5 separate regions of the Homo sapiens genome follow, and regions 1, 3, 4 and 5 are each reported to be linked to region 2. The links are microRNA targets in miRTarBase. Many come from high-throughput screens and were not tested one by one. Region 2 holds a microRNA gene; each other region holds the end of a gene's coding sequence.
What was found. Region 2 holds the annotated microRNA hsa-miR-5693 (GCAGUGGCUCUGAAAUGAACUC, at 2,915-2,936, shown strand). A microRNA usually pairs through its seed, bases 2 to 8, with sites in the 3' UTR of a target mRNA and lowers its output. Matches are read on the target gene's strand: a 7mer-m8 pairs with bases 2 to 8, a 7mer-A1 pairs with bases 2 to 7 and ends in A, and an 8mer does both.

Region 1: miRTarBase lists POPDC2 as a target of hsa-miR-5693. The part of its 3' UTR that is shown has no 7-base or 8-base seed match.
Region 3: miRTarBase lists TAS2R5 as a target of hsa-miR-5693. The part of its 3' UTR that is shown has no 7-base or 8-base seed match.
Region 4: the mRNA of PGCKA1 is a reported target of hsa-miR-5693. Seed matches in the 3' UTR shown: 7mer-m8 at 3,358-3,364.
Region 5: the mRNA of BTN3A2 is a reported target of hsa-miR-5693. Seed matches in the 3' UTR shown: 7mer-m8 at 2,040-2,046 and 7mer-A1 at 1,056-1,062.

The regions. Positions count from the first base shown.
Region 1 is chr3:119,643,105-119,648,423 of GRCh38, forward strand. It overlaps POPDC2 (popeye domain cAMP effector 2), which reads right to left. Exons shown (of 4, transcript NM_001369919.2): 3 at 5,015-5,319. The coding sequence ends at 5,058. Among named protein-coding and RNA genes, the nearest start is that of POPDC2, 15 kb to the right of the region's middle.
Region 2 is chr13:51,344,816-51,351,511 of GRCh38, reverse strand. It overlaps MIR5693 (microRNA 5693), which reads left to right and starts at 2,873; the gene lies at 2,873-2,945. SERPINE3 (serpin family E member 3) reads right to left here. Exons shown (of 10, transcript NM_001386375.1): 5 at 4,278-4,487; 6 at 3,101-3,299. It also overlaps a transcript of INTS6 not described here.
Region 3 is chr7:141,789,421-141,796,116 of GRCh38, reverse strand. TAS2R5 (taste 2 receptor member 5) reads right to left here and starts at 5,900. Exons shown (of 1, transcript NM_018980.3): 1 at 4,750-5,900. The coding sequence starts at 5,755. The coding sequence ends at 4,856.
Region 4 is chr4:37,588,834-37,595,529 of GRCh38, reverse strand. It overlaps PGCKA1 (PDCD10 and GCKIII kinases associated 1), which reads right to left. Exons shown (of 4, transcript NM_001104629.2): 3 at 6,631-6,684; 4 at 2,020-5,442. The coding sequence starts at 6,662. The coding sequence ends at 4,530. It also overlaps a transcript of RELL1 not described here. Among named protein-coding and RNA genes, the nearest start is that of RELL1, 94 kb to the left of the region's middle. RefSeq lists enhancers at 4,693-5,193, 5,194-5,694.
Region 5 is chr6:26,371,520-26,378,215 of GRCh38, reverse strand. BTN3A2 (butyrophilin subfamily 3 member A2) reads right to left here. Exons shown (of 11, transcript NM_007047.5): 6 at 5,119-5,319; 7 at 4,920-4,940; 8 at 4,803-4,829; 9 at 3,843-3,889; 10 at 3,418-3,445; 11 at 1-2,419. The coding sequence ends at 3,849. Among named protein-coding and RNA genes, the nearest start is that of BTN2A2, 8.2 kb to the left of the region's middle.

The DNA.
Region 1 (5,319 bases), not on the chromosome of region 2:
TGCTCTGGCCGTGCCACTTTCAAGAGCAAGTTTTCCGAGCCAGGACTCTTTCCAGTAGTTCTGTGAGAAAAGCACTGTTTGCTAGCACTGACAGCTACCAAAAACCTTACAGCTGCTTCTGAGGGGAAGAGCATGATGACAGTGTGACTCTAATCTGCCTCCTCCCAAACAGATGAAGGAGAGCAGGCTGACATGTGACTTAGCTATTCAGGGGCTAAAGAGCTAGCACATGTTTTCTTTAGGCCTCCACTTTTTGCTGTACCTTTTGTTGTCAGGGGATTCTGCCAGCTGCCACCTTCCCTGAAAAGCCAAACTGGTGGAAATAAGAGGGAAAATCATCTATCTCTGATAAAAGAAAGAGAAAGAAAGAGAGAGAGACTGCTAAACAATTGTACATACAACAGAATCTTAAAATACGCTACACATTTAACTAGTGCTTCAGAGCTTAAAAACTGCCTTTATGTATTTTATCACAATCACGCCTCACAGCAACCCGGTAAGGTAGACAGAGCCATCTTGGTCCTGTCCTGCAGATGAGGAACATGTTCTTGATGGCAGGTGAGTGGCAAGACTAGAGTCCAGATCTTAGAAACACAGAATCCTAGAGTTAGAAGTTACCCTGACACAATAATCCAAGGCATCCTTTTCCCAGAGCATGAATCACCTTATAAAATCCCTGAGATTTCTTATGGCCCCTGCTTGAACTCTTCCAGTGATGAGTAACTCTCACCACCCATGAGCAATCCAGTATCAATACTGAGCTAAAATCCTTCTTATAACTTTCAGCCTATTCAATTCAATTTCTGCCCACAAGAACTACACCAAATTAAGTCAAATTCTAATTTACATTCTTTCTAAAATTTGAAGATATTACACTTGCCCTTTTCTTGCAGATAAAACATTTTCAGTTCTTTCAACTACTTATCATGTGATTACCTAGAACCATGCCTAAAATATATAGTAAATAGTGTTTATTGAATCGTTTCTCTTGCCCTTGGTACTATGTCCTGATCCTCCTGTCGAGGGGCTCCTTCCCTTACCTCGAGTGTCCTCAATTTTGTAATCTGTTCATCATTTGCTTATTTAAATAATAGGGAGAAAAGAAACAGTATAGTTTTCAGAACAATGTGAAACAAAATAAAAATTGTCCAAATGTCAGACAGCTTTCAATTTATTTTGTGATAATGGATTCATTATTTCACTCAACAGACTACCTCGGAGCTGCATTTCTAGAAGATAAGTCCCTCATTCATTGAGCATCTCCTGTAATAAGACACAGAATGGATCCCTGTGGAGAGTGGCCATCGAATTAAACAGAAAAATTCTAGTGAAGGGAGGGATGATTTGGGGTCTGGCTGGAAGACCCTGCATGAATACATTATCCTGCAGCATAGTTTTGCCTATTAAGAGAAGCAGCACCCATTTTTTGTTCAATTTTGGGTACCACCAGACTAAAAAACATATGTCTCTTCAAAAAGGAGCTCCAGAGGAAACTCTGACTATTTTCAGTTGGTCTTAATTTGGATTGGTGTGAGAGACAAGCACTGGTGTCAATGTGATGAGGCTGTGTCATTCCTAATGATGCAGAATTCAGCCAGCTTCATGCCTCTCATATAAGTGCTGTGCCGGGATGAATAGCAATGAGCTTAACATTTTGATAACTAAAGAGCCAGGAAATAGATGGTGAATGGTGCCCTACTTTATGAAAGAAATAATAGTAAATTGCTCCCAATTAAGGGAATATGCTTATTCATTAGAGTAATAACCTTATAGCAAGTTTGATGGTAAATAAGTCAAATCAAACATTCAAAACACAATTTCAGAAAAAGAACTGAGGCTAAATTATCCCATGATCACAGACTACATTGAAAACTATCAGAAGTTTGGCTAATTTGATCATGTTTTCAAGTTGTTCTGAAAACCTCTATGGCCTGAAAAGTAAACGACATAAGTTTCCTTTCTCTCTATTGCTTAAACAAAGAAACATGAAAAACTATTCTCCCTATATTGCAAATTCCGGTATTTTAGAAAGTGAGCCTCATCAGCAGTTTTCTCATCTTGAGTTTTAGAAAAGGCTGAATTTGGAAAGAGGCATTTCATACGATAGTATGTATTAAGGGTTGAGGGCTTGGGGACTGAGTTGTGATCTCCTCTCTCATAAAATATCCGCACTGTAGGCCGGGCGCAGTGGCTCACGCCCGTAATCCCAGCACTTTGGGAGCCCGAGGCGGGCGGATCACCACGTCAGGAGATGGAGACCATCCTGGCTAACACGGTGAAACCCTGTCTCTACTAAAAATAGAAAAAATTAGCCAGGCACGGTGGCGGGCGCCTATAGTCCCAGCTACTCGGGAGGCTGAGGCAGGAGAATGGCGGTGAACCCGGGAGGCGGAGCTTGCAGTGAGCCGAGATCGCGCCACTGCGCTGCAGCCTGGGTGACAAAGCGAGACTCCGTCTCAAACAAAAAAAAAAAAAAAAAGAAAGAAAAAGAAAAGGAAAAGGAAAAAAAAATCTGCACTGTAATCACATGGTAGGTGATAGATTCTTCACAGGCATAGAATGGAGGGAACTGCTAGTTAAACAAGACCCACCACCACAAGGGCTGAGGAGAGTCCCAAGGTGCCAGAGAAATTGTAGTGAAATATCACAGAGAGTTCTTGCTGAAAGACACTCAGATGTCCTGGGGCTTGTGTCTACTGTACTGCGGACTGACTACTCCTCTTTTCTTCCTTTGAAAAACTTATCCTTGCCTTCTCAGATCAATCCAAGGGGGTTCCTGGGGACAGCTGGTCCAACACGCTCAAATGAAGAAAGTAAGGTTTAGTGAGGTATGGTTTGCAAAAAGTCACATATTTGATTAGTAGCAAAGCCAGACATAGAAGCCAGGACTTTGGACTCCCAGTCCTGGCCTCTTTCTCATTTACCATGCTGCCTGCCTCCTGATGTTTGGAAAACATTCCTAAAGCTGGGGATTTTACACCTTCACTTGAATGGTTTTCTTTATAGGCAGAGGGAAAAGTACTGATCTTTGGAAGAGTTAGGATTAAAAACTAATAAGATGGGGGTACAGGGTGTTTAGGAGGAAGAATAGATACAGCAAGGCAAAAAAGGTGGGAAAAAGAAAAAAGGAGGTAATAGGAGAGATAAATATATGAACAATAAAATGGAAGAAAACAAGAGACAAGTGAAGAGGGAGAAATGAACTGAGAAGACATAGAAAATGGACACTTAAGAGCAGCAAACTGGCCAGGCATGGTGGCTCATGCCTGTAATCCTAACACTTCGGGAGACCAAGGCAGGAGGATTATTTGAGCCCAGGAGTTCGAGAACAACCTGGGCAACATGGGGAGAGTTTGTCTCTACAAAAAAATTTAAAAATTAAACATTATCCAGGCACAGCGACATGTGCCTGTAATCCCTGTTACTTGGGAGGCTGGGATGGGAGGATCGCTTGAGCTTTTGGAGGTAGAGATTGCAGTGAGCCGACATCATGCCACTGCACTCCATCCTGAGTGACAGAGTGAGACCCTGTCTCAAGAAAGAAAAGGAAAAAAGAACAGAACATCAAACTGAGGCAATCAAGGACTGAGAAGAAATTGGAGAAGAAAGAAGAGAAAAATAGAACCAAGAAAAGAGAAGAAAACCAGGAAGAACAACATGAGAAAACAGAGAGCTGCTGTGAGTCGAAGAGAGAGTGTATAGGTGGATGGGCAAGTTGGACCAAGAGGGATCCATAGGACATAAGGAGCATGCGTGGATGCAGGATGAACGAGTAGGAAGGCGAACAGCTGCACAGAGGGAAAGGAGTGATCAGAGTTGTCAATGCACACTTCGGGGAACTCAACAAAGTGATCTGGGGTGTTAGATTGATCCTTGGAATTACCTCAGAATGAGCTGAACTATGGTTCTAAGGATGCTGGTAACACAGGAGATTGTAAATTCCATATCTACAAAACTAAATCTCTAACCTTTCATCAGTCATCTCTATGGCCTCTTTCATCATTTATATAACCTGTTTTTCAAAATAGACAAACATTCACTCATTCATTTCATGTACTCTGGAGGCCTTCCTCACTGGGCTAGTTTCTCAGGTAATTTATTGGTGCTTTCTGAAGAACCATGGGAGGCGCCTTCCAAATTGGGAACAATGGGATTTTCCTCAGGAAATTCAGGCCTACATCATGGTTGGGTGGAGTTACAGAGAAAAACATCACAGTATTATGAGGGCAGCCAGGGAAACATGAGAGCAATTTCCCAGAACCACTGGGCACAGCCTTTCTTGTAGACTCTCTGGGAGGGAAATTCTGTGAGGGAAATCCTGCACGCACTGTTAGGCCCTCCAGGATTTATGCACATCCTACCTCCCACAGGTGTGGGTGACTGGGGAAAGCCAGGCTGCCATATACCTATCTGATCATAGTAACATTTAATCATAGCAGTATCTAGTCCTCTGTCTGTGTGATCAACAAACACATTCTCCACTGGGTGAGAGGAAAGCAAGATGAGGACATTTTCCTCCCCGAGCTATTAGCTCATAATCACAATCCTCTTTAAAATATGCAGTTTTAACAGAGATGCCTGCCCAGTCTAGGCTAAATAACAACTGCTTTCCAGGACGGGCTCTGTATCAGGAAAGACAAGCAATCAGAATTAGAACCCTGCCACATTCTTTTTCTTTTAAAATGCATGCCACAAATAAAAGCCCCTTAAGCCCCAGCTGTGGCCTCAGCTATTAGAATAAACTTGCAAAAAAACAGCAATCTACCTTCCTGCTCAACGTATCAACCAGCCCACTTTCTAAAATGCAATCAAGTTAATAACGAATGAGTTTTTAAAATCCCTTCATGCCTTGCATGCACCCGGAGTGAGTTGCTATCTTCAAAGTTGGGTTAATGCCACTTTCTGTGAGTCCTCTAAGAGGAAATGTTCCACGAATGATTTTTTTTGCCCTAACAAGCTGAGTTAAGGCCAGCCATTGACAGGAATGTGCAGCGGCTGCCTTCTGAGTACTTACATAGGATCCTGAGCCGGTGGCTGTGCCCATGTTAGTTCTCCCTTCACCTCATGTACTCCCCATCACTCCTATAATCCATAAACGATTCTGATCCTGACACCTCCTCAAAATCCTCCAGCACCAGACTGGTGGAGTCCTCACCCAGTATGCCACTGTCTGGCCTGGACAACCTGGCCCGGGTAGGAGGTGCAGGAAAGTTGGTGGTAGCTGGAGGGGTAGAACAAGGGGGTGTTTGCTGGAGAGAGGTGGGTGTGGCCTGAGGAGGGGACACAGCTGGCTCACAGACTTCCTCATCACCCTTCTCG
Region 2 (6,696 bases):
TTACAACTCAATAATAAAAAGACAACCAATTTAAATATGGGAAAAACCTCTGAAATAGACATTTCTACAAAAAAGACATTTCTCCAAGTACATGAAAAGATGCTCTACCTCATTAGTCATTAGGGAAATGCAAATGAAGTCCACAATGAGATACTACTTCACACCAACTAGAATGGCTAAAATAAAAAGATGGTCATTAACAAGTGTTGACAAGGATGTGGAGAAACTGGATTCCACACACATTACTGGTAGGAATGTAAAATGGTGCAGTGACTTGGAAAACAGTTTGATAGTTCTTCAAAATGTAAAATGTAGGGTTACCACATGACCTAGTAATTGCATTCTTAGGTGTATATCCAAGATAATTGAAAATATATATACACAAAAAAATGTGCACTTGATTGTTTCTGGTGGCCAAGAAGTTAAAACAAGCCAAAATGTGTCTAGGCACTCAAATATCTATAAATTGATGAATAGGTAAACAAAATGTACTATATCAATACAATGGAATATTATTCAGTCATAAAAAGGAAGATAGTATTGATTCATGCTACTATGAACCTTGAAAATATTATGCAAAGAAGCCAGACACAAAAGGCCACATATTGTATAATTGTACAATATGTAATTGTATAATTTCACTTACATGAAATTCTCGAATAGGCAAATCTATTGAGAGCAAATAGATCAGAGGTTGCTGGGAGGTGGGGAGGGGAGCTGGGAGTGACTGCTAATGGATATGGGGTTTCTTTTTGAGGTGATGAAAAGGTTCTGGAATTAGTAGTGATGGTTGCACAACTTTGTGAACATACTGAAAACCTCTGAATTGTGTACTTTAAAATGGTGAATTTTATAATATGTGAATTATATCTTGATTTTTTAAAAAAGAAACACTCCTAGAAAAGCATAAACCACACACCATGATAATCAGCAGCTCCTGGGAGGAAGGGCAAAACTCATTTTGAATATGTGGGATCTGGTGGATTTTAAGAAGATATATATTATATCTAATATCAAAACATGCTCATGCTCAGCCTTCTATGTTGACCTAATAATCAAATGTTTTATTCATTACATACATATTTGGCATTATTAGTCTTTCTTGTGGGACATCATATGATTGTGGTTATAAACAACCCTTAACACATTCTTGGTTTTCTTGATTATTCCTTTAGTATGCTAAGCGTCCCTCATGAAGATTAACAGTCCCTATGCACTTTTTTTATTTATTTATAAATAAAAGGTTACTTTGGAAGCTAGACACCATAATTCGTCCAGAATCTACTAGTGCACTGCTTGGTGATGTCTAACCTGAAAGCACATCTCATAGTCACACAATTTTGCATTGCTACCCACAGTGTGCAAAATTTTTTTGCTCTTGTTAAACGAAAAATGCCTGCTGACTGCAGAGCAAGTCATACTAAAAGAAGAATGAGTGATTTGAGAGAATGAGAGGTAAATCCCTGCCTAAAAGCTGACTTTGTGTCTACCGTGATCCAAAGTTTATACCTAAATCTAGACCTAAGAGAGTTTTTACTTTTTTTGTTTTGTTCCCCAAAGGATTTAAAGCTAGCTTAAAAACAAACAAAAAAAACTTGGTTAGTTTTACTTGTGAAATAACTTCATTTTCCTAAAAACCTCTATCCTCCTTGGACAGCAGTCTTGGTAGTCTTAAGGAGATTTAAAAAAAATTATCAGAATGAGGTTAAGTGCTAACTAATAGTTGTGTTACTAAGATTTCTGCCTTGCCTTGCCTTCCCTGCCTGCCAGTGTTTTTCAGTTTTCAAACTGCTTGAGGGTTTGAGACTCCTAAAAGCAGAATCAGGACGGTGGAGAGTTCTCAGTGGAGCTGGGAATTTCCCCGGGGTCTCTTCCAGGGAAGAACTGCTCGAGGATGAGTCCCACCATCTGTCTCTTAAACCCAAAAAGGTTGTGGCGAATTCTCGCACCAGCCTCCTTTTTCTCTCTACTTTTGACACGGAACGCTGCTCTTCCTTCCCTTGCTGAGTTTCTCTCAAATATAATAGGAAGATTAGGGTTGCTTCTGCTCCCTCCCTGAGAGATCTGTTGAAATATCCAGTATTTGGGTTTTGGTTTGGGGTCCAAATATTTAGTTTTGAGAGATACACTTTACCTTAGAGTTAAGTGCACCTTTTGCCCTGGGTTATGCCAGATCTCACTTTAGACCTTGGCCCTTAACTTACTGGGTCTCTCTTTGTATTTTTTCCTTCTAGTGCATAGATTTACTTTTAACTCCTCAAGGGAGTACTGCCAAGGACTTTGCCTTTGCCTACTGGAAGCCCAGGCAGTGGAGAGAGGCCAAGGCATCTAGTGGCTACTGGACAACATTCCTTGCTTAATGCTGGTCAAAAAATGGTTATAAATTTACTCTGATTTCAAATACATCACAGAAGCTCATCATTTAAAGAAGCCCTAAGAGGAGTCTTTTTGTAAAGTTATGAGTTTTGCTAATAGATTTTGTTTTGAAAAAGCAACATAGAATGCCACCACTTCACTTTTTGATTTGTATTTGTACCTATTGGGTCTTCTTAAAGGAGAGTTCACCTCCATTTAGAAAGAATGAGAACCTTCTGCACAGAGACTTAAAGTGTCAAAATTTTATGCCTTAATTTGGCGTCTGATCAGAATTTTATCTGTACTTGCTCAATTACGTAAGTCATCTTATCTCTTTGGTTTTGGAAAAATGACAGTTGTATACTCTTAGGATGGGATAAGATTTGGGCAACGTTCCTACAAGGGAACCACGAGCATTTCCTTTCCAAAAACTGGTCCAGCCTAGGGCTGGATCAGGGGGTCCTGGGGGGCTCCATTCCAGCCCAGTGAAGGCAGAATATCTTGTCTTGGAAAGACTCTGGGAAGTTAGTTCATTTCAGTCTGTGCTGTGAGCTAGCCAGCAGTGGCTCTGAAATGAACTCAAACTCTAGGGTCACTTCCTCTTGGTCTAACTTCTGGGGATACATATTAAACAAGTCATCCCAGTGGCTAAGCACAGACCCTGGAGGCAGACCACCTGTGTGCAAATCCACGCTCTTCTGACTGCTGGCTGCACAGCACCTGTGAGGGGGACTCAGCTGCTCACCTGGGCAGGAACACATCCATCCTGGCTCTCCTCAGGCTGGTGGTCCAGAGGTGGATGGTGCTGGCTGTGAGGTGTGGCTCGATGTGGCTCAGGGGGGTGTCTTTGTCACGGGGCAGCACCAGGAACAGACTCACTGCACTTCCCAGGTAAGGAAGCTCCAGCACCCCCACCTGATGGCCTGCAGTGTCCTGGAACTGACCTGAGGGTACAGTGGATCAGAGGTCAGCTCTGTCCCAGGAGCCAGGAGAATGAACCAGTGTCGGACCCTGAGAGAGGCTGGCTCAGAGGACTGGAAACAATAAAACCGAGCATCCACCTCACCCTCAGGAGGCGGTTTCAGGCCAAAGACTGTTGGGCGATATGGTCATTTTATAAAAATCCTAGACCTAGAGTCTTTAAGATACCCTCACAGGACCAGAGTTAGAGGTTCTCTAGGACTGGGTATGGGGGGGGGGACGATGGCACATGCAGAACCACATAGAGTAGTGCCCCCTTATCCTTGGCAGATATGCTCCAAGAACCCCAGTAGAGGCCTGAACCTGTGGATGGTAACGAGCCCTGCATATACTATGTTTTCTCGATCTGATGACTGAGATGGCTACTAAGTGACCAACGGGCATACTGTAGACAGCCTGGGGATGCTGGACAAAGGGATGGTTCATATCTCAGGTGGAACAGAGAAGGACGTCAGGAAATTTCACCACACTATTCAGAAGGGCGTGCAGTTTAAAACTTGAGAATTATTTGTGAAATTTTCCATTTAATATTTTCTGATGCGGATAACTGAAACCTCAAAAAAGCAAAATCATGGATAAGGGTACAGGGTACTACTGTACCCGATCTTAAAGGAGCAGCCATTCAATCCCGGCCTATTGTGCCTGCCAGGGTGGCAGTTTGGTCCAAACTCTACTAGTGCAGAAGGAAATGTCAGGCATGAAACTGAGTTTCTCTTCCACATCTGTGTCCTCACTGTCCTGTCAGAGCACACTGTCCCACACTCCTCTCTAAAGTCTCCGGGCACCTTAGTCTTTCCTTCCGCCATGCATGCCCAGTCCAGCAGATGGACCCTGCGGAAACACATCCCGATCCCTTAGGAGCAGGGACCTGGCCTCCTCTCTCCTGCCCTCAGGCCCAGGCTTCCTCTCCCTTTAGACAAACCAGCAGGGGCAGAGCTCACCGTAGTTGACCTCGGTCGTTTGGTGCATCATGGGGACCTGAAGGACGAGGCCATAGGCACAGGTGAAAGGCAGGATCTGTGTGTCTGTGGAGGAGAATCTCTTTCGCCAAGTGCCTTGGAAGGACATGGTGCTCACAAGCACAAGCTGAGCAAATGCTGCACTGACTTGCTCCCACGGCCAGCCACCAGGGCCCTCACTGGGGCCCCCACCTGCAAGCAGGAAAGCAAGGTGGCCATGGGTTAAATGTGCATTGAAACTGAACCGAACCCAGTGTGTGTGCGGACAAGGAGTGCAGAGTTAAAATGCGAAAATGCAGGTCTTTTTGCTTAAGGTGGTCTCTCTCTTCATCTTACAATATCTTTTTAGTCTACTTAAGAATATTTAATTCCCTGTCTCAGCTCCTTGTGCTGTCAGGGACCCAAGGCACCAGGAGCTGCTCTCAACTTTTGGGGACTGTTGAGCGATATGGTCATTTTATAAAAATCCTAGACCTAGAGTCTTTAAGATAACCTCACAGGGCCAGAGTCAGAGGCTCTGTAGGGCTGGGTATGGGGGCGACAATGACAACCCCTGCTGGGGGATGAGGGTGTGGAGAGGGAAATGGAAAGTGAGAACTCAGAAGTCCTGACACCTGGGTGACCAGTCAGGGGAGGTGGGGGCAGTGAGTCATCTCTGGAGTTGGGTTGGTAGAGTATTTATTAAAATATGTTCATTGCAAATTGATATGTGTTTATAACCAGCTGTTGCTGAAGACCCTGCTTTTTATTCTTTTCTGAACAGGTTGGGATGCTGCTCCTGGTTCTGTTTGGGGCCATTTCCTAGGAATTATTAGACATTCCCTCCCCAGGCAGACCCTTGGAAGGAGTATGTGCTGTGATGGGAGATCCTGCACATTGTCGCCCCCAGTCCCCACCCTGCCCCGCTGCTGAGCTGAATCTCTCACTGAGCCTTTGCTTAGAAAACAATATTCAAGGTATGGTCTTTGTAGGGCTGCAGTTAAAATTTCATGCAGTGTCAGAAAGAGGAGCTGGCAGACCACCCTTAAGGGGATAGTTTTTGTCCCAGCTGTTTATTTGTTTAATATGCACACACTTTGTGATAGGCTCTGTTCTAAGTGCTTTAGCAAATCCTCACCGACTCCTCCTAACAGTTCTATTATTATTCCCTATTTCACAGGTGAGGGAACTGAGGCTCAGAGAAGTTGGGCAAGGTCACATACTTATGAGGGGTGAAGCCACCATCCACCCAGTTACCCAATGCAATGTGGATTGCATTGAAATAGAACCCTAGCAGCTCCATGGAAAGCTTGGATTTGAACCCAAGCAGCCTGGCTCTGGACTCTGTGCTCTGAGCAACTGAGCCAACTGCCCCTTTTTCTTAGAGGACAATCAGCCTGCACTGGGAGCTGCTTCTCTGGCCTTACGCCCTGGCAGCACAAGGATGTGAGCAGGGAATTAAACATATTTAAGTAAATTGAAAAGACATGGTAAAATAAAAGAGCATGAGAGAGAACTTTATCACAAAAGATGTTAATTTTTGCATTTAATTCTGCCATCCTTGTCCACACACTTACTGTTTTCCATTCAGTCGTAGTATACATATCACTTCCTATTCTGCTTTTTTTTTTTTTTTTTTTTTTTTGAGATGAAATCTCACTGTTGCCCAAGCTGGAGTGCAGTGACGCAGTCTCAGCTCACTGCAACCTCTGCCTCCTGGGTTCAAGCGATTCTCCTGCCTCAGCCTCCCCGAGTAGCTGGGATTACAGGCACATGCCACCATGCCTGGCTAATTTTTTGTATTTTTAGTAGAGACGGGGTTTCACCATGTTGGCCAGGCTAGTCTCAAACTCCTGACCTCGTGATCTGCCCGCCTTGGCATCCCAATCCTATTTTGCTTTTTAACCAACACTGGGTCTTGAATGTTCTCCACATTGCTATGAAACTTTTGAAATGATCAAGGATGCTGGAGCCGGACCACCTGGGTTAGAATCCTGGCCTGTGGACCCTGGGCAGGAGGCTGAGCCTTCTGTGCCTCAGTTTCTCCATTTATAGAATGGGGAGAGTAATAGCGCCTACCCCTTAGGATTATTGTGAGGGTGAACTGAGACAATCAACTGGGAGCAGTGCTAACTAAATAAACTAAACACTCAGTAAACGTTCATGATTTTAATTATCTTTCATAATAATTACAACTGTATAACATGCAGGTGCTGTGCTACACTGATTCACACCTCATTGCTGGGCAGCGAGGCTGTTTGTAAGTCTCTTTCTTCAATAACACTGAGCTAAACATCTTATTGTGTGTAACTTTTTCTTAAATTATTTCCTTAACCTAAATTCCCAGGAAACCACTTTTTTTGGCTCCTGTTGCACTTTGCCATCACAGGTGGTTTATTATAAATGAGAGCAGAGCTCAGTC
Region 3 (6,696 bases), not on the chromosome of region 2:
TTACTTGAAAATAACAAAATATTTACTAGAATAAAATGTCATGAAAAATCTTGTTCTGTATTCTCCTGAGAAATGTCAATCTGATTCTTGATCTGTTCTTTCAAAATTTTGTAAAATTGCCTGTCTTCGATATTCTTAAATCTCTACAATGTGTTTAAGTGTGACGAATTCCTCCCACTTTATCTGTCTTCTTTGACACCCCTTGAGCCCTTTTAGTCTTTTTTCATCGTTAATGCAATTCTTGGTCATTAATTCTTCAAATATTTCATTCCTTGTGCTTATTTTTTCCATCTCCTTCTGGGGCTCCAATCACACCTATGAGTGTCCTTTTATTTCTGTGTGCCATATTGCTTTGCTTTTAAATTTCCCATCACTTTATTACTTTGCCATATCTCCTGCGAGAGTTCTAGAGCTGGCCTTCCAGTGCATCAATTCCACACCAGGAGCTGTACCCATTCTGCTGCTTAATTCAATGGTGGAATAATTTATTTCACCTAATTTAAAAGTGCATATTTCAGAAGCCAAAGGGAAACCAGGCTTTTCCTCACCCCAGGGCCTGTCAGCTAGGTTAGGCCTGTGATCTAGAATCAGCCAGCCAAAAATCCCACCCAGGATGGCTCGAAGAGACACAGTCTCAGAGGCAGTGGCAGTGTCAAGAACACAATGTTAACAGCTGAACAGGAGAGGTGGTGCCAGCATCAGTCCCTGTAGTGTGACTTGATTGTGTTCTTGTTTATTTAACCCCTCTTGGTTCCCATTCTGAGGTTGACTCTCCAGCCTTCTCCCTGGTTCTATAATCTAGCCAATTTCCTTTTGATAAGTGTACTTTCTCCTGAAGTCATATGAAGTTGTTTATAACTGATACCACAGGTGACAGGAGTTGGGATATGGGAGAAGTGCAGGACTGGTGAAGCACTAATTTCTTCCTCCTACATAATCGGGACTCTGTGGATACTGTCATAAGGCATGGTTCAAAAAAGCAGTGTAGAAAATATATTACTTACAATTGTAAAAGTAATGACTGTTAGAACAACAAAATAAAACTAATCAATTTAGGAGAGGAAAATGGATTAGGGGCAAAATGAGATAATCCCCAAACCTTGATGAATGGAACTCAAAGGCTACAGTTTAAAGCTGATAAAACAAGTAAGAGAGCCAAAATCTTACCATTCAGAGTCGTAAAAAATAACCACTAAAAGAACTAACACAAGTGATAAGATACCATTATATCCAGGCAGTGGGACTAATAATAGAAGGTGGGAGGGAAAAACGTTGCTGTTCATTTTCTACCTTTCTGTCCTGTTCAAATCGTTTTTAGCCATGCTCACATATCACATTTTTAACATTTCACGTCTCCTCTCGGCTACACCACCACAGAGCATATCACATAATTAAATGTAAGGCCATTAACATCTACACACACACACACACACACACACACACGCACACATGGATCCAGCTGCAACTCTAAGAATGCAAATTATAAAAGATTCAATTACATAGGAATCAATTCAAGAGTATATATTTGCCTTCCCATTTGTTTTCTTTGCTAAAACACAAAGCAGTCTCATACGCATCATAAGGTAAATTGTGTACAGAAAAAGAAGGAAATCAAATCCCAAAAGGTGATGTGGAAAATGCAATAATTTTTCCTGCTTTATTGAGGAATGATTGACAAAAATGGTATATATCTACAGTATGCAACATGATGTTTTGACATATGTATACACTGTGAAATGAGTACCACAATCAAGTTAATATATCCACCACCTCACAATTATCTTTGTTGTTGTTGTTAGTGAAAACATTTAACATCTACTCTCTTCACAAATTTCAAGTATATAATACGGTTCTATTAACTATAGTCACTATGCTGTACATTAGCTCTCCAGAGCTTATTCATTCTTCCTAACAGACACCAAACATCTCCCTATTTCCCCCACGTCCCAGGCCCTGGCAACCACCATCCTACTCTGCTTCTGTGAGTTTGGCTTTTTGAAATTCCACACATCTGTGAGATCTTACAGTATTTGTCTTTCTGTATGTGGCTTATTTCAGTTAGCATAATGGTCCTCCTGGTTCATCCACATTTTTTCAAATGACAAGATTTCCTTCTTTTTTAAAGCTGAATAATATTCCATTGTGTGTGTGTATACATATATACACATACATATGTATACTACATTTTTTTATCTGTTCAAATGTTCAAATGTGATATTTGAGCATGGCTAAAAACAATTTGAACAGTACAGAAAAGTAGAAAATGAAACAGATACACATACATGCATACACTACATTTTCCTTATCTGTTCATGTGTTGATGGACACTTAGGTTGATTCCATACCTTGTCACTAAGAAAAGCAGATCATAAACTTTGATCTGTTGTGATTTTGGATCTTAGCACCCAGGCATCCCATCAATACCAAATTTGAAAGATTAGTTGCTTATTGCATGTGTGTAAAAATACTCATAAACTTGAGGGAAGTTCCACAGGCTAATCCTAGTTTGAAGTCTTACAAGTATGAACAATGAGATACTTAGGATTTACTGGAAAGAGCACAAGACTCGGAGTCAAAAAATTTGGGTCTGCTCCATCTGCATTATTTACAAGTTCATGATCCTGGGCAAACCATCACTCCAGCCTGAGTTTTGTCACCTGTGAATTGGGGATAAAATTGGTTACTGCATAGAGTTGCTATTAAAATCAAATGAGATAATGGACTATATATGAGATTGTCTGGTAAAATGTAAAGCCCAATACAAATGTTAAATACTATTGTCACTATTACAACAATTGGTCACAAAGGACATCTGTAAAAAAAATAGAAATGGTATAATGAAAATTCATCCTACTAACAAAAATATAACCAAGCAGAAGCACCTTTCTATTTAAAAAGAATGAATATGATCCTTCCCAGGACATAAAATATGGTACTTGACCTCACACAACTCACAGTGACAGTGGAACCAATCTCCCCCTGTGTGATGACTAATATCCACATGTGCCTAGCATGTACCTCAATTCTCAGATTCAGGTAAGAAAAAGATATGTTTGAGAGAATAGATTAATGAAAGTAGATTAGTGTGATCCATAGGAAGTGAAAAAAAAATATTTAAGAATGCCAAGTGTTGTCCTTTGGATTTCAGATCCCCCTGGAACTGAAACAAAGAAGGCTAGAAAGAAGGAAGAGAATAAGTTGTGTAGAAGGGTCTGTAGAAAGAGGCATGGGGTTCCAAGGAGGGAAGGACATTAGGAAAGTAGCATGTTGTAAAGGAAAGAGCCCTGCACCAGGAGTCAAGAAACAGCTCTAGTCCCAGCACTGCCACAGGCTCTCTATGAAACCCAGGGCAGGCCACTGCCCCTCTCTGGGCATCAGTTTCTCTACCTACAATACAAAGGAGGCATTGTAAAACCAGTTAGCACAGCTATTCAGTCATTTACAAAATATTTATTAAGCGTTTATTATGCAATAGGCAGTGTTCTAGTCACAGAGACGTGGGAGAAAATAAAAACAGACACAGTTCCTACTGCCATGGATCTGGCATTCTAAATGATCTCCCTCCAACTCAAAGACCTGGCACACTAGAACTCTGACTGTAGGCTGTGGTGAGGCCACAGTAGACAGGCAAAATGGCTAAATGACTGAAGAGCAGACAGCGTGACCTCTTCAAAGGCAGTCTATTTTTTTTAAGCAGAATCAAGTGCCCCTCATTCTCATATTGCCCCACTTCAGTTCCTGGGCCTTGGAGCTTAATACAGATCATGGCATCCAACTGACTTTTATTCTGCTTTTTTTTTTTTTTTTGAGACGGCATCTCGCTCTGTTGCCCAGGCTGGAGTGCAGTGGCATGGTCTCGGCTCACTGCCATCTCCACCTCCTGGGTTCATGCCATTCTCCCGCCTCAGCCTCCCGAGTAGCTGGGACTACAGGTGCCCGCCAACACACCAGGCTAATTTTTTGTATTTTTAGTAGAGATGGGGTTTAATCATGTTAGCCAGGATGGTCTTGATCTCTTTTTTTTTTTTTTTTTGAGACGGAGTCCCGCTCTGTCGCCCAGGCCGGACTGCGGACTGCAGTGGCGCAATCTCGGCTCACTGCAAGCTCCGCTTCCCGGGTTCACGCCATTCTCCTGCCTCAGCCTCCCGAGTAGCTGGGACTACAGGCGCCCGCCACCGCGCCCGGCTAATTTGGTCTTGATCTCTTGACCTCGTGATCCGCCCGCCTCAGCCTCCCAAAGCGCTGGGATTACAGGCGTGAGCCTGATTTTTATTCTGAAAGCCAAGGCTAGGGCTCAAAGAAACTTCCAGAAATATAAAGATGTTTTGTTTTGTTTTTCAGTTAGATAATTAGATACATTACAGCAGAGAAATGGGGAAATTATTTGATACTTTTTAAAAAGCATATCTAAAATGACTAACATTAATGTATAGGTAAAATTTCATAAAAATTAATGATCACTATAATTGTTCCTAATCTCTGTTTTCTATACTAGGAAAAACACAATTTATATATGAATTTTTGCTATATGTAGACAGAATTGTTCCTAATCTCTGCTTTTTATAATAGGAAAAACACGATTTATATATGAATTATTTGCTATATGTAGAGAGAATATAATACCTCTTTTACCAAACATGAAGCCCTAGCCTTGATTTCTGTGGTACATTAAAAAAATATACTTTGCATTGCCAAAAGAGACATAGTATTGGGTTTTGATCCGTATTTTCTGTTGCTCATTCATTACATTGGTGTAAAAGAAGGAAAATCTTAAAAGACATGGAAAGCAGCTCCCTTATAGAGAGCTATCAAAAGAGCGTCCCAAGAGTGTCCTGACCACACTTTTCTTCCCAGATCATGGGCCCCAGCATCTCCGAGCACACACTGTCTTCCACAGGATCTTCTGACAAGTCTGCTTCACCCTAGGAATCCCCATGATCAATATGAGAGAATGAAGAGAAGGATAGGCTGCCATGAGTGTCTCCCAGATGAAGACACTGGTGAGATCAGGAGGATAAGTCTTGGAGGTGATGGAGAAGGGGCTGGCCATGATATAAACCAGGTGAAGTAAGAGGAAGCAGCCCAAGGACTTCAGCGCAGTGATGTGAGCCTTGGCCCGGACATCCCTCCTACCAGCTGAATGGACCTTCATCTTCTTGTGGTGTGTATACAAAGAGACAATCAGCATCCCAGAGGAAACAAGAAACACCACTAAAGGCAAATAACTTCCTGAATTGAGCTGAAATGCATACAGGTACTGCCAGCTTTCAAAGGGATACCGAATGCTGCTGTTTCCTTGGGGAGGATGATAGAATGTTAAGCCAATTTGGACTGTAAGTAACAAATTGATTATAAAGTAGCCCAGAAGGCACCAGAGACTCAGGTTATAGGCCCTCTGCTTCAGCCACAAGTAGGCCGGGCGATCGAAGGTCGTGATCTTCTTGCAATAGAAGACACTGAGGAAGGTGGCAAACCATAAGCTGGCCTGGCTTACCAGGACCCAGAAGATACTAAGATAGCGAAGCCAACGGCTGCTCTGGAAAAGTGGAAACAAGCTTAAGTCCAAAATGATCAGCCACTGCAGGAGAAATCGGCAGCCAGCCAGGCCCAGGATAATGAGGTTATATGAGGACCAGTTGAATTTTCTGATCCATTCTCTAAAACTCCAGACCACCAGGCTTCCATTTCCAATTAAACCGATGAGAAATTCAACCACTGCCACCAGCATCAGCAGTCCTAGGCCAGCGCTCAGCATGGCTGGGGAGAGGAGGCTCTCACTGCTCCTGGCTGAGGTCAGATCCCCTGGTAGTGATAACACACCAGGGTAAATTTTCACACCACAAAATCTGGATTTGGCCTCGTCCTTCCGTAATCTGTCTTCAAGCGAGACTGAACAGCTGTGATGAGGAACAGAGAGGTTGGAAGTTATGATACCATCTGTATTTGCATCTACATGAATGAACCCTGAGTGTAGAACCAGAGATTGCAAACAGTACCACAGACACCGGCTCTCCATCTCAAAGGTTTTGGGCCAAAGTCTAGACACCAGGGTATAACGTAACAAGGCCCCTCAACAAGAAAGACCAAATCAAAACATGCTCAGGTGCTATACAGTGCCAGTTATGAGCTCATATGCTATATAAAAAAAGAAATTTTATTTTCATGAAAAGAACACTGGGCCAGGCATGGTGGCTCACACCTGTAATCCCAACACTTTGAGAGGCCAAGGCGGGTGGATCACCTGAAGCCAGGAGTTCGAGACCACCCTGGCCAACATGGTGAAGCCCCATCTCTACTAAAAATACAAAAATTATCTGGGCGTGGTGGTGGCTGCCTGTAGTCCCAGCTACTCGGGAGGCTGAGGCAGGAGAACCACTTGAACCCAGGAGATGGAAGCTGCAGTGGGCCAAGATCGCGCCACTGCACTCCAGCCTGGGCGACAGAGCAAGACTCCATCTCAAAAAAAAAAAGTAAGCATGCTGAGAACTCTCTACGAAGCTGTAGGCAGGCAGGCCACTGCCCGTCTCTGGGCCTCAGTTGCTCTATTAATAACTGAATGGATTGTAGGATGAGATTTCCATTCCTTCGGACTAAATTTACAAAGTGCTTATTTTGTGTCAAACTACGGTGTACTAGGCACAGGGGACGGCGCCATTATAATACACAGTCCCTGCCTCCAGGTAGCATCCATTGTAC
Region 4 (6,696 bases), not on the chromosome of region 2:
ACCAGACCGGGAAAAGATCACTAACTCCAGACTTCTTTTATGTATTCTTTCAATCAACAAATATGTATTGAGTTCCCCCCTTGTGCCGTACACTAACTTAGATCTCAGGCCAAACGCATTTTTTTAGTACAGATATTTCAGTTGAAAAAAATTGCTAATAGTTGACTCCAAGTGACTAAATGTGCAGGTAAGCATCATCTACGATCAACACATTGACTTGCATAAAATGTTTCTTAAAGTGGCTGGGAGTGCTTCAGAAGTTAGCAGACCACTTAGGTGTGGTTTGTATAACCTGATACATATGAGAAACTTACAAATTTAGTAAATCTATAAATGAATGACTTATTGTTCTATTAGTTAACAGGGAAAGGATTTACCATGAAAAACAGATGTCAGCTTGTCTGTGTTTGTCACCAACTCCAAAATAGAGGATTTAAAAATGCATGAGGTTTAATCTAGAGAAAAAAAATGAAACAAGACCAGAAAGCAATTAATTTCTACGTTTTCGTCATAAAGCCTGGTTGTGTGAAAAGCAGTGCCCTTGATGAAGAGTTAAGTCCAAGTCCAGGAAAGGAGGCTATATCCTGTGCTGCAGTAGTGACTGTGCTCTATCTGCTGCATGGTTGCACACAGACGACCAAACCAGGGAAGTCAGGAGATCTTTGCACTTGCACTTGCATCTGGTGTCTCATTCATTCTTTCTAAGGCCTCCTGCTTGGAGGTACGGATGGGAGAGGTAGGAAGAGAAGAGAATCAGAGAGACAGAGCGGGGCAGAGGGAGGAAAATGACGAATGGCCAGCACTTACTGAGCATGGACAGATGGGCATGTGCTATGTAAGAAACCTAAAATTCTCTTCGTTTTTTTGGGTATCTGGTTTTTCCAGTTATAACTATTCACTACATCTGCTTTGGCAATGAGGGGAAAAAATTTAATTTCATATTTATATGATAGTTCATTTTCCCCCAGTAAAAAGTTAAATCTAACTTCTTAGCTCAAGAAACCTATATGTAATATATACATAAAATAATCTTAATTCAAAATCAGGATTTAACATGGTAAATATCCACGTGATGCAATTGCCTAAGGTTCATGGGGAACTGTGAAGTCTGCCCCTAATCACAGTTAGTGCCTTCCAATCAGAGTGCATTGTGCTTTCATATTGTCCACAATGTTTGAAAAGGTTGGCTATTTTCAACATCACTTTTCTGACAAGAGGTGGCACTAGGCTGCAGAAAGAAGACACTACACACATAAGCGTGCTCAGACAGCTCACTGTTAGACAACCTGGTAGATAAGGCTAAAAGCTGGAATTACTTTTCAACCTAAAGATTTTTTACTTTCATTTCCTTTGGGGGATCCTGGATACTGGAGTAAAGATGAAAGGGGCCAGAATTACTTTTAAAGAACTCTTGAAAGTATTGGCCATCTGTCGACCTTTTCAAAGCAGTTATTCATAAAAGAGAATCTTTAAAACTACAGAGCTGTCAGTTATGGTGAACTCTGCAGCTGTTCTAAGATGTAAAATTATATACATATATAAATGCGAAAGTGTGTGTCTGGGTAAGAGAAAGAGACTTGTCTGCCCTGATACCTTACCCTACCCCTTCTTTGTCTGAATTTCTTCTTTTCGTCCGGTTTGGAGTTATCAATGGGAAGTTGGAGCAGCGGTAGCTGTCCAGTCCTCCTTCCCCCGGACCAAAGGTGGAAGCCCCTTTGGTGTCACACTGAATGTACACACGATCTTCCAATCTTTTGAAACCAGCTGTATCCCAGGCTTTTGGGTTTTGAGACCTCCTGTGGCAGAGACTGTAAACTGACCGCCTCGAAACTCATTGTCCATTTCCCCTTCTTAGTAACTGCATTCTGAGTTTATTTGGCAAAGCCACGCACACCACTAGCAAGACGATTTCCTAGTCTCTCTTGCAGCTAGATGTGGCCAAGTGACCAGATTTTGACCAAAGAGAGTAATGTGGAAGGGATGAATTATACTTCTGTGGGGTCCTTAATAGAGAGTGAGTGGGGTTTTTATTCCTTTATTCTTTTTCCAACATGGAATGCAAATGTAATGACTGAAGCCACAGCAGCCATTATGGACTACAAAGTGATCTTGAGAAGGAAACCAAAATGATTGAAGCAGCATGGGTCATTCATATGCGGGTCATTGATACGTGGGTCATTGATATGTGGGTCATTGATACACGGGCCAGTGATACATTCTCTACCACCCTGGATCACTAACTCCAGACTTCTTTTACATAAGAGGTAAATAAGCCTCTATTTGTATAAAACACTCGTCCCATACAACTGAACATAATCTCAACTGATACACTTAGGAAATCATTGAAGGAATAAGCATTCTGAAATATTAAGTATTTGGTGTACTAAATACAAAAGGAGACATACCTCTAATGCAATTAACAATGCCAAGACTTTATCTTTTTAAGGGCTCTGAGTGACCCTGTATATAGAGGTCACTTGCGATGGCTTGTCATTACAGTACCAAACAAACCCATAGGCTCATTAAGCATTTGTAAGGGTGCCGTCCTTAAAGGTGCTGGAAGGCTCAGAAATCATGTTTTATACTAAATAATTGCCAAAGTCAAATAATGACATTATACATACTTCCCAGTTTTAGAGTTTTCAGTTGTGGGGATGTAAAAATGTTTGTTAAAGGAATTGTTTTCAACTAGTAAAACATCATTTTTGAGTGCCTAGTGTGCCAAGCACTGTGCTAAACACTTACATCATCTCATTTAACCTTTACAAGCACATACAATTATTCTTCTCACTTTACAGATGGGTAAAGGGATACATAACTTGTCCAAGGTCACATGGCAAAGCTGGAAATCAAATGAAGTTCAGTCAGATTTCAATTCTGTGTTACAAAACACCAAACTAAAGCATCTTCCATGTTTATTTTTTTCTAGATAGTTTTGAGCATCCTTAATGCCTTTAAATTCTCCATTGAGTTACGTTAGAATGGTTGTCCTTGTTTCAGTGAATTAGAAGGCTGAAATCCAGAGAGGGCTTGTTCATCTTTGAGGTAAGATCAGGACATTTAGTTATGGCATCAAGTTTGACAGAGAGAAAGCCAAAGCTATGGCTCTGCAAACCAGCTCGGTCCCTTCCTTGAGTATAATTTTGTAGTCTAGCTCTTTTTTTTTTTTTTTTTTTCATAGAGATGGGGTCTCGCTAAATTGCCCAGGTTGGTCTCGAATTCCTGGCCCTGGCAATCCTCTCACCTCAGCCTTCCAAAGTGCTCAGATTACAGACATGAGCCACTGTGCCTAGCTTAGCTCTTTTTTTTTTTTTTTTTTTTGAGATGGAGTCTTGCACTGTCACCCAGGCTGGAGTGCAGTGGCACGATCTCAGCTCACTGCAACCTCCACCTCCCAGGTTCAAGTGATTCTCCTTGCCTCAGCCTCCCAAGTAGCTGGGATTACAGGCGCCCGCCACCGTGCCCGGATAATTTTTTGTATTTTTAGTAGAGACAGGGTTTCACTATGTTGGCCAGGCTGATCTTGAACTCCTGACCTTGTGATCCACCCGCCTCGGCCTCCCAAAGTGCTGGGATTACAGGCATGAGCCACCACGCCCGGCCATCTAGATTAGTTCTTTACATTGAAAGTAACATCCAGGGTCACTGATATTCTGAGAAAATTAGAACCACCTTTGAGTTAAGACTTCTAGAAAGACACATACGTTGTTATATTTTAATTGGAATCAGACATTTAATGGCATAAAAACATTGCATATATGGCTTTGCTGTTCCGAATGTCATGAACTTAAAATCCAAATATGACATAAGCAGTTTTAAGACTTATTTTGGCCAGCCTCCCCAATCCCAAAGGAGATTTAAAAGTAATAATGTAAAAAAGTTAAGGTCAAGGTGTTTTAAAATCAACATCTCAGCTAATGACTAACCCTTTGTTTCCTGGGGACTTCTGCTCTACTGTGAAAACTGCTGAGCTTAACCCGCTGTTGAACAACTGGTTAGTTATTAGTTCCCTGGGTGATTGTCCCTGAAGTTAAGCCATGCTCTGGGGACACATGAGGCACTTTAATTGGGGTAGTTACTTTTTCCAGGTTGGGTACAATGTTTGGCTCTCAAAAGCAAGGTAAACAGTTTACAGTCAAAAGGAATGCTCTGTGATTGTGTGCCTTTGGGATCAAGGGTTGAGATCTTAGAGTATTCTCATAAACATCTGTACCAGGTGCTCAAAGATGTTTGAGGGTTGTCAAGCAAGCTGTTCAACTTCTGCATTTTCTGTGGATATGGGCACAATGACCCACTCAGATTTTTCTCCTAGTGTCCTGAATGACAGCTCATCTACACAGAGTGAAACTCCAGATATGTGACAAGCAGCATGGGACAGATGCTGACAATCAGAACAGATGCTGGATGTAAACAACTGGTAAGGCTGCACTGGTGCATGCTGGCAGAATCACCTGCTATGCATCCAGGGAGCAAATGCATCTGCATGCTCAGCATGACACCAGCTTACCTCCCTGTGCAAATCCCCTCCCCTAATCAGTCTCATCCAAATCTTCTCCTGCAGTAGCAGCTTCTAAAGCTGCAAGGGCCTCCGCCACCGCTGCATCCTCGTCCACAATCTCCCCATCCCCATCTCCATCGGAGCCATGGGTATCCTCCTGCCTGTTTCCTGAGTCAACCACAGGCATGGCATGAACAGGACCCTTCTCATTAAAGCAGATGCTTAGAACTTCTGTTTCCACATCCTCATTCAATGAATCCCAGCTTCTCCTCACAGAGAAGGGCGTATTCAAACCATGCTCCCCCACTGGGGGCTGAATTCCCTCTAGGGATTCATCCTCAGTATGGTTCTTGAAAACACAGTCCTTTTCATTATGATCAACGTTGTCTCCAGCTGGGCCCCAATGCTGAAGGTAATCTGGGGCTGGTATCTGGAAGACATGGTCTTGTACTTCCAAGGCAAAACTTTCTGCCTCAGAAGGAGCTCTGGAGTCTCCATTTCTCATGACTTGGGTCCCTTCTGAGGCCAGCAGCACACAGTCCTGTTTCCTGGTGCCCCCTCCTTCCAGGAAGGGTTGAGTTGGGGGAACAGTATTTGCAGTACTGGCCCAGGAGCCCCTGTCATCCTGGGTGGGGCTGGAATTCCCAGTGGGCTGTGGAGTGGCAGCAGGGCCGATGCCGTTGACACCGCAGGCATGGTGTTCCCCTCCAGCGTCCCCCTGTGGGAGCGGCCCTTGGTGAGGCCAGCAGGGCTCCCATGGATCAGCTGTCCTGCTGCTGCTCTCAGTCTTCTTTGAGCCCTGCCTCTGAGGGTCATTTTTCTGCACCAAGACTTCACTGCTCCATTTGCCTTTTAATTTATCAGTGTCGTCTTCATCTAGCTTGCAGCTGTTGACTTCATTGACATAGCCAGGAGAGGGCACTTGAACTGGATCAAAGAGATAGCTTCAGGAAAGACAATGAAAACCAGTCAGGTCTGCTCCATCATTAATGCTTTTTACCACAGGCCCTGCTTCTTTCTACGATTCCTGCTAATTTAATTTCTGTGATTACTTTTCAACCTAGATAAGTATGTCTAAATCAAATAGATATAGTTGGTATAAAAATGTTTGGTGGCTCACGCCTGTAATCTCAGCAATTTGGGTGGCCAAGGCGGGTGGATCACTTGAGGTCAGGAGTTCGAGACCAGCCTGACCGACATGGTGAAACCCCATCTTTACTAAAAATACAAAAATTAGCTGGGTGAGGTGGTAGGCACCTGTAATCCCAGCTACTCGGGAGGCTGAGATAGGAGAATCGCTTGAACCTGGGAGGCGGAGGCTGCAGTGAGCTGAGATCACGCCCCTGCACTCCAGCCTGGATGACAGAGCGAGACAGTCTTGAAAAAGATAAACAAGGTTCTGCCTGAAATACTCTTAAGAAGAGAGCCAAAAGGAGGAAGGAGGGGTAAGGGGTGAAGTAAAATACAAAGTGGTTCATAGAATTTTAAAATAAAAAACAAATAAAACAAATGTCCACTAACAGGGCCATAAGGAGTATATCCTCTCAGTGGAATATTATGCAGTCACTAAAATGATAAATATGAAGTCTGTAGTCACAGGAATGATACTTACAATACATAGTTTTTGAATAAAGCCAAACATCACAGTATGATTACAGTGGAATACAGCTTATTTATATATAGGTCTAGAATAGAACTATGATTAAAAAGACAGTATATTTGTTAAGAAAGCAAGATCATCAGTTACCCTTTTTCTTAGTTAGAAGTTTATGTTCACGTTACTCACAATTTTCTGAAATGCAATGTGGACAAAATTAAAAGCACATATGTGATTGGGGTGATTTATTTTCAGCGATGCCATTTCAGGCATCCTCAGAAACCCAGACCAAATTCAGCCTCAGAAAATGATGGTGTTCCCAACATGCTTTGAGAAGTGAGCAAAAAAAGTTAAAAAAATCTAGGGCACATGTTCTTTTAAATGATATTATAACAATTCCAAACTCTTAATGTGTTGGCAATGTTGATCATGCCCCAAGCTGGATAAATGCACTGAATACACGCATGGTCTTTAAAAGTGACCCCACGCTCATCACAAATTCCTCCATTTAGAAGTAGTATTTCTCCAGCTTTACCTTTGTATTATTTTACAGCACCTGCACCCCATCTGGATTGTTTTCTGTTACCACCTGGAAAAGAAA
Region 5 (6,696 bases), not on the chromosome of region 2:
GGAGCAGTTTTCCCTAGCAGGCAGCAGTTGAAAGGAATATGGGTTTAACATCCACCAATGACCAGGAGTGGACAGATCCTTTTCCAGGAGACTGAGTCCATAGTGGGATTAAAAACATCCCTGTAATTCTTCTAGCTTCCTTCATCCAAATTACCAATATTACAGAGAATCTCTAGGGTATTTGCTCTGCCTGGAAACCTTGACTGAAGGAAGGCTGGCTCTGGCTGCACGATCACTTATCACATTTGTTGGGTGGGAACACATCTGTGCCCCATTATTAACTGAGTGTGGCCTCTAGTCTCTTTCAAAGTCACATGCCCTGTGGGAACTGCAACGTTATTCTCTCAACCAAGACACTCTGCAGAGCCAATCCAAGGAGTGCTGGGTCTAAGGCTCTGATAATCAGCTGGGAAGGAGTCCATAGGGGTCTTAACTCCACAACCACTCACAGTGATCTCGATCCTGGAGCTGTCCTGGGAAGGGAACCTCAGGGCTACATGTGGGCTCTTCCCATGCAGGAAAAATCAGGCTGGAAAAGAACGGGCAATTGGCCAGGGACTGAAGCTGAACATCTCCCAACTGCACAAATTACCGTGTGAGTTATGTAAGCTACTTAATGTTGCCCTGCCTCTGCTTCCATACTTGCCAAATGAGACTACCTGACAGGGTGTTGTGAGGATTAAAGGAGTGACACCCACCAAAGCTCATAACACAGCACTCAGAACGTTTTAAATTCTCCATTAATGTTAGTCATTGTTGTTCAGATCCCAGCTCTGTTGTTCACTATTCCTGTCTGCTTTGTAAAGTCAATACACTTTTCTACACCCCAGTTTCCTTATCTGTATAAAGGGGCCAATAAGGTGGCACCAAACTCAAACAACTGTCCTATGGAATAATTGAATGAATATCAGTAAAGTGCTTCAGTGTGTGCCTGTAGCTTTATGGTTCTGACTGGCTGTTGTGGAGGGTGAGACCCTTAGCTCCAGGCTGGGCAGGGAGAAGCAGAGATGTTACTTCAGCCTGAGGCTCCCCACTTTCATTAGCTAAGCCTGGGGTCAGTGGTATCTCCAGGGAATGATCAGGCACTAGGTCGGGATCGGGGGAACTCTCTACTTTTGGTATTGGGCAAACGGTCAGGGCAGTGGGCTCCAAGGTCAAAATTCTGAATACAGGATACAGAGGCTCAGAGGAAGAGGCGTGCAGAAATGTGTAGATATGAGATCCATCCGTGGCATTGTAGAACGAGATATGTCCAGTCTCATAGTCCAGGATGACCCCCACTTTCCTAGGAGGCTCAGGAAGTTTCAGGTTGGTTCTGGGCTCAGTGAGAGCCCGATACTTATTCCCATCAGTCAGGCCCATAGTCCAGTATCCGTTCTCCGGTGTCATTTTGACCCAAACTTTTTTCCTCTCCACGTTCTTACTACATACCCCAATATGCCACTCTTTTCTGTCCCCCACTTCCACCTCCCAGTAGTGTCTCTCTGACATGAAGCTTTCACAGCCAAGCACACAGTAACGCCATTCAAATCTCTCAGGGTTGTCTGGTAGGTCATGGGGCTCCTCAGCACGCTGTACACTCCTCTGGTCCTCAGAAACAAGGAGGATGGCATTTGCCATGTCTGGATACAGAATTACATCTGCTGCAGAGAGTTTGAGGAGGTGTCCATGGGGTCAGCCATTTTTCCTGGATTTAAGAGCCACAGCATGCAAGGCTTGGGCCATGCTGAGGAGGTCCTTCCAGAACCCCGTGTCCCTAGCCTGCCCTGAATGTGATTCTCTCATCAATGTCATTGGTGAAAGCCCCAGGGGTCTAGTGACCAGAGGGGAAATGAAAGTAAGGTCAGTATCTGCCTAACCCAATACCCTGATGCGGCCCCAAGAAGCAACAAGGATCCTCTTTCTACATTTTTGTTGTTTCCCTCCCCACATTGATTCTGCCCACTGATGCTTTATACTCAGAGGTTAATTTTCTTTTCTTTTTTTTTTTTTTTTTTTTTCTTGAGACAGAGTCTCGCTCTGTCTCCCAGGCTGGAGTGCAGTGGCGTGATCTCGGCTCACTGCAAGCTCTGCCTTCCGGGTTCATGCCATTCTCCTGCCTCAGCCTCCCGAGTAGCTGGGACTACAGGTGCCCGTCACCATGCCCGGCTAATTTTTTATTTTTTGTATTTTTAGTAGAGACGGGGTTTCACCGTGTTAGCCAGGATGGTCTTGATCTCCTGACCTTGTGATCCGCCCTCCTCAGCCTTCCAAAGTGCTAGGATTACAGGCATGAGCTGCTGTGCTGGCCCTCAGAGGTTAATTTTCAATCTTCACTCGACCACTCGTGAGCTAAATGAGTTCCCCTTTTCTGCAGTCTATTTTTCCATACATCCAATTTATTTAACAAGGTGGAGCCTCATCTGAAGCATTTCCTCACCTGAAAAATGGGGATAAACATATGAATCTCTAGCGCTGTAGAAGGCAATCATATTATTTACTCAGCCCACAGCAGGCCATGAAGGAAGCTCCTCATCTTCCTGATAGCTGCAAGGCCGTCTCTGTGCTGGGCTCTGTGTGGGGCCTTATATGCCCTAGATTCACTCTCCAGCCTTCAGCTTTCTCCACCCTCTTCTGGACCCCAGGAATCTGTCCTCTATGGACAGTGCCACTGGGCTCCCTTGTCCTCTGGTTTGCTGCTGTGTTTGGCCAATGGGAGGCCCTGATAGAAGATTAGAAGGAGAAAGAAAGGAGATACACACCGTTTAATTTCCTGCTTCCTCCCTGCCAGCAGCAGCTGGTGGTGCTCTAACAAGGCCCGAGGACTCTTCTCAGGAAGCTCCCTCGTTAAGCTACCTCTTTCTCTGGGTTCCAGTAATTGCCTCCCCTTTTTAGCCCTCCCAGGCTAGGGGTGGAGACAGCTCCCCACTGTTGGGAACCATGGGGGCACTGCACTTTTCCTTGTTGCTTTCCCTTAACCCTTCTTTCTGGAAACCTTGTCCAACTACCCAGTTTGAGCTCACCATCTATTTCTTGCTAGGTTTCTGCCAAGCATGTTCATTATTCCTTCAGTCTTCACCTCAACCCCCATGAAAAACAGATTGCAATCATCATCTAAAAATGTGGAGGCCAAAGCTTGGAAGCATTAAATCCTTTGAGGAGATACAGGCAGTAGGTGGCATGAGAAGCCTGGGAAGGACAAAGTTCTTTGGGCAGGCATCACCTCCTCTCCTTGGCATTTCCATCCTCACTCTCCCTGCAGTATTACTCAGTGTGTGTCTCCTTCCCTTCACCTCCACCCTTTATGCGTCTTCCTACCCACGAAGGAAGTCAAGGGAACTTTTCTGCTCCAAATCACAAGAGTTGGAGAAGAAAAAAGGAAAAAGGAATATAGTCCCTCAGGTTGTTGGTCCAGGGAACATGCAGTGATTTACTCACCAGGCTTGAAGAGGGCCATTTTTCCATTCTGAAAGGAAGGAGACACAGATAAGAAAAAGGTCAGTATTTTTGTACTTTTCCCACTCCATTCTCCTCTCACTACATGTTTTCTCTCCTTTTCTTTAGAGTCTCTTCCAGGGTCCAGCTTCCCTCCTCTACAGCTCTGATGGATCAGAGGTGGCACCTTCTCAAAAATGTCAGGCTTGGCTCCCTGTGTCATGGGGGGTGCAGGATGCATGGCCAGGCTTTACAAGGGGGTGTGCAGGATCAGGAGTTTCTCAGAGGCTCCAGAAAAGCGGAGGTGAACCCCCACCACACAGAAATTGAGTCTTTAGATTAGATCTAATTAATCCAGCTGAGAACATCCACGGGTCACAGTGGAGAAAAAGTTGAAATATTCAGGGCATGTGACCCAGCAAACTTACAGAGCATCAGGCTGACTTATTGGTATCGGACGAAGACTCCTCTCCACCTACAATGAAAGAAAGGTAGAGGTGTCACCAGAACTCTGCCTTTTCTGTGTTGGCCCCTTCCCCTTCTTTTTGCATCCATCTAGTCTTTTTTTTTTTTTTTTTTTTTTTTTTTTTTTTTTTTTTTACCATCCCACCCTTCCCCATGGTCTCCATCTTCAGGTACAATTCTTTCTTCACCTCTTCTTAATATCAAGTCTGGGAACATCGGTTGAACGCTAGTGGCAGGGCAGGCACTGTGAGAGTTCCTTCCCAATGGGGTCCAGCTCATCTGTTTTGAATGTGTACCTGGGCATAGGTGTCACCATGTCTATATGTGTATGCCTAGGAGTACAAGATTCATCCTTCTCAATCTGTATCATTTCGTACCTTGCTCTAAAAAGAATTTGGGAAATTTAATGAGCAATTTCAGGGACTAGTTTTTGAAAGCAGTTATGATCTATCTGTACCAACTGAGCCACTGTAGCTACTCCTCTTTATTAGACACACTTTTCTCCCTCCCTCTCTCTTTTCTGATTTTCTTATTTCTTAAATCTTCCATTCTTGTTTTCCTTTCAACAGCCTCTAGATTATGGGAAACAACAAGTAAGTTTCCTGCCATAGAAAATGCACCTCATCCTTCTCTTCCCTCTTCCTTTTGAAGTGTACCCCTGGATATTCCTCAGTGCTTTTTAGAGCTTAAGGGTCTGTAGCCCCTAGTACAAAGAGATTGAAGACCTCTTTTTTTTTTTTTTTTTTTTCTAGAGAGAAAAAGCACTGGGTGGTTTCTCCAAAGAGCCACACTTGTTTTCTTTTTCTGGGTAAAGGGATCCAAGACCACTTTTCAACCCTGGGCTATGACTTATGGGCTGGAAAATAATGAAGCAGAGAGAGAGTAACAGATTTGAATTCAGAGAAAATGTCAAAGCCACTCACGAGTCAAGTACTGGATTTTTTTCCTCTCTGCAATGGAATGAACAGGGAAGAGTCATCAAGGTGCTCAAAGCGAGGATAGGAAGACATGTCTGGATCTCTGGGGGAATGGTAACTTACTGAGTTCCTCCTGGAGGCTCTCTGGAAAATAACCAAAAAAAAAAAAAAAAAAAAAAAAAGATGAACTGTTATGGGTGAGGTTGGTGTTTCGGGAAATAAACCTTAAACATGATGCAGTGCCAGGGTAGGGGAGAGAGGTGAGGTTTTCAGGCTGGGGCATGCAAGCCAAGAGCTTAGATTCTCTGCTTGCGTTGGATACCTCTTAGGCTTATTTCCCGCTCTGTTGCAGCATATCCCATTTCTTTCATCTCTTGCTCACTTTCTATCTCACTGGACAGAGCAGTTATTTCCTTCTGTTGTCTCCACAAGAAGTAACTGGCTCCGGCGAGAAGCAGCAGCAAGATAGGCAGGGTCCCTGCCAGGGCTGCGATCCAGGGCTGGGCGCTCCTGAAGAAGGGGTCTGCGAAGGGGAGAGCTGTAGGTCATGGGCGCTGGTGCGCTCAGCCTCCCCAGCCTGCAGCACCCCAAGCTTTAGCTGCTCAGCTCAGGTCGGGGGTGGGGAATCTATCTCATGAGGTTAAATAAGGATTCTCTCCCTAAAGTCTCAGAGGACTATAGATAAGACTTTGGTAAACCCTCACTACAAGCTACTACTATTACTTATCTTGAGATGTCTGCCTCTCACATGGAAAGTAACTTGAGCAAAGTCATACACATTTTTTCTAAATATTTTTTCAATAGGTAACACATTTACATCGTTCAAAACTACATACACATAAAGTCACGCAACTCTCTCATTCACCCTGTCCTCCCTCCCTCCATGTATTAACTTCTTAGTCCACTTAATATGATGCTTAGGAACATAACCTGTGGAGTCAGAGGGTATGGGTTTCAATGCTGGCTCCCCCATGTGACTAGCAGTGTGATGTTGGACTACTTACATAACCTCTCTGTTTGTAGTGGCCTAATCTACTAATGTAAAATGAGGGTAATGATAATACCTATTTCCTGAGGTTAGAAGAATTGAATTAATACTTATAAAGTGCCTGATGTACAGTAAGTGTTACAAAATTGCTTGTTGAAGTTTAAAAATGTAAACTAACCCAATTGAGAACTAAAAAAAAGTAAATTAAAATATATTCTTATTTTTCCTCTTGTTTAAACTAAAAATAGCATTCTATACACGTCCCTCTGCATCTTGCTTTTTCTGTGTAAAGTGTATCTTGGAGATCTTTCCATATTAGTATAGAGAGAATTGCTTCTTTTTCCTTTTACAAACTGTGCAGTATTCCCTTGTATGGAAGTTCCCTGGCAGTGAACATCTGCACAGTTTCTAACCTTGTGCAATAGTAATCAGTGCTATAAGAAACCTTTTACAGGCCGGTTGCAGTGGCTCACGCCTGTAATCCCAGCACTTTAGGAGGCTGAGGCGGGTGGATCACTTGAGGTCAGGAGTTTGAGACCAGCCTGGCCAACATGGTAAAACCTTGTCTCTACTAAAAATACAAAAATTAGCTGGGTGTGGTGGCACATGCTTGTAATCTCAGCTACTTGGGAGATTGAGGCAGGAGGATCACTTGAACCTGGGAGGCAGAGGCTGCAGCGAGCTGAGATTGCACCACTGCACTCAAGCCTGGGCAATAGAGTGAGACTTTGTCTAAAAAAAAAAAAGACACACACACAACGAAAAACAGAAACCTTTCACATGGATCATCTCATACAAATGCAAGCTTATCTATCAGATAAATTCCTAGAAGTGGAAGTTTGGATCGATAAGTGTGTAGTTTGGATAGATATTGCTATAGAGCCCCCAACAGAGGTTGACCTAATGCACATC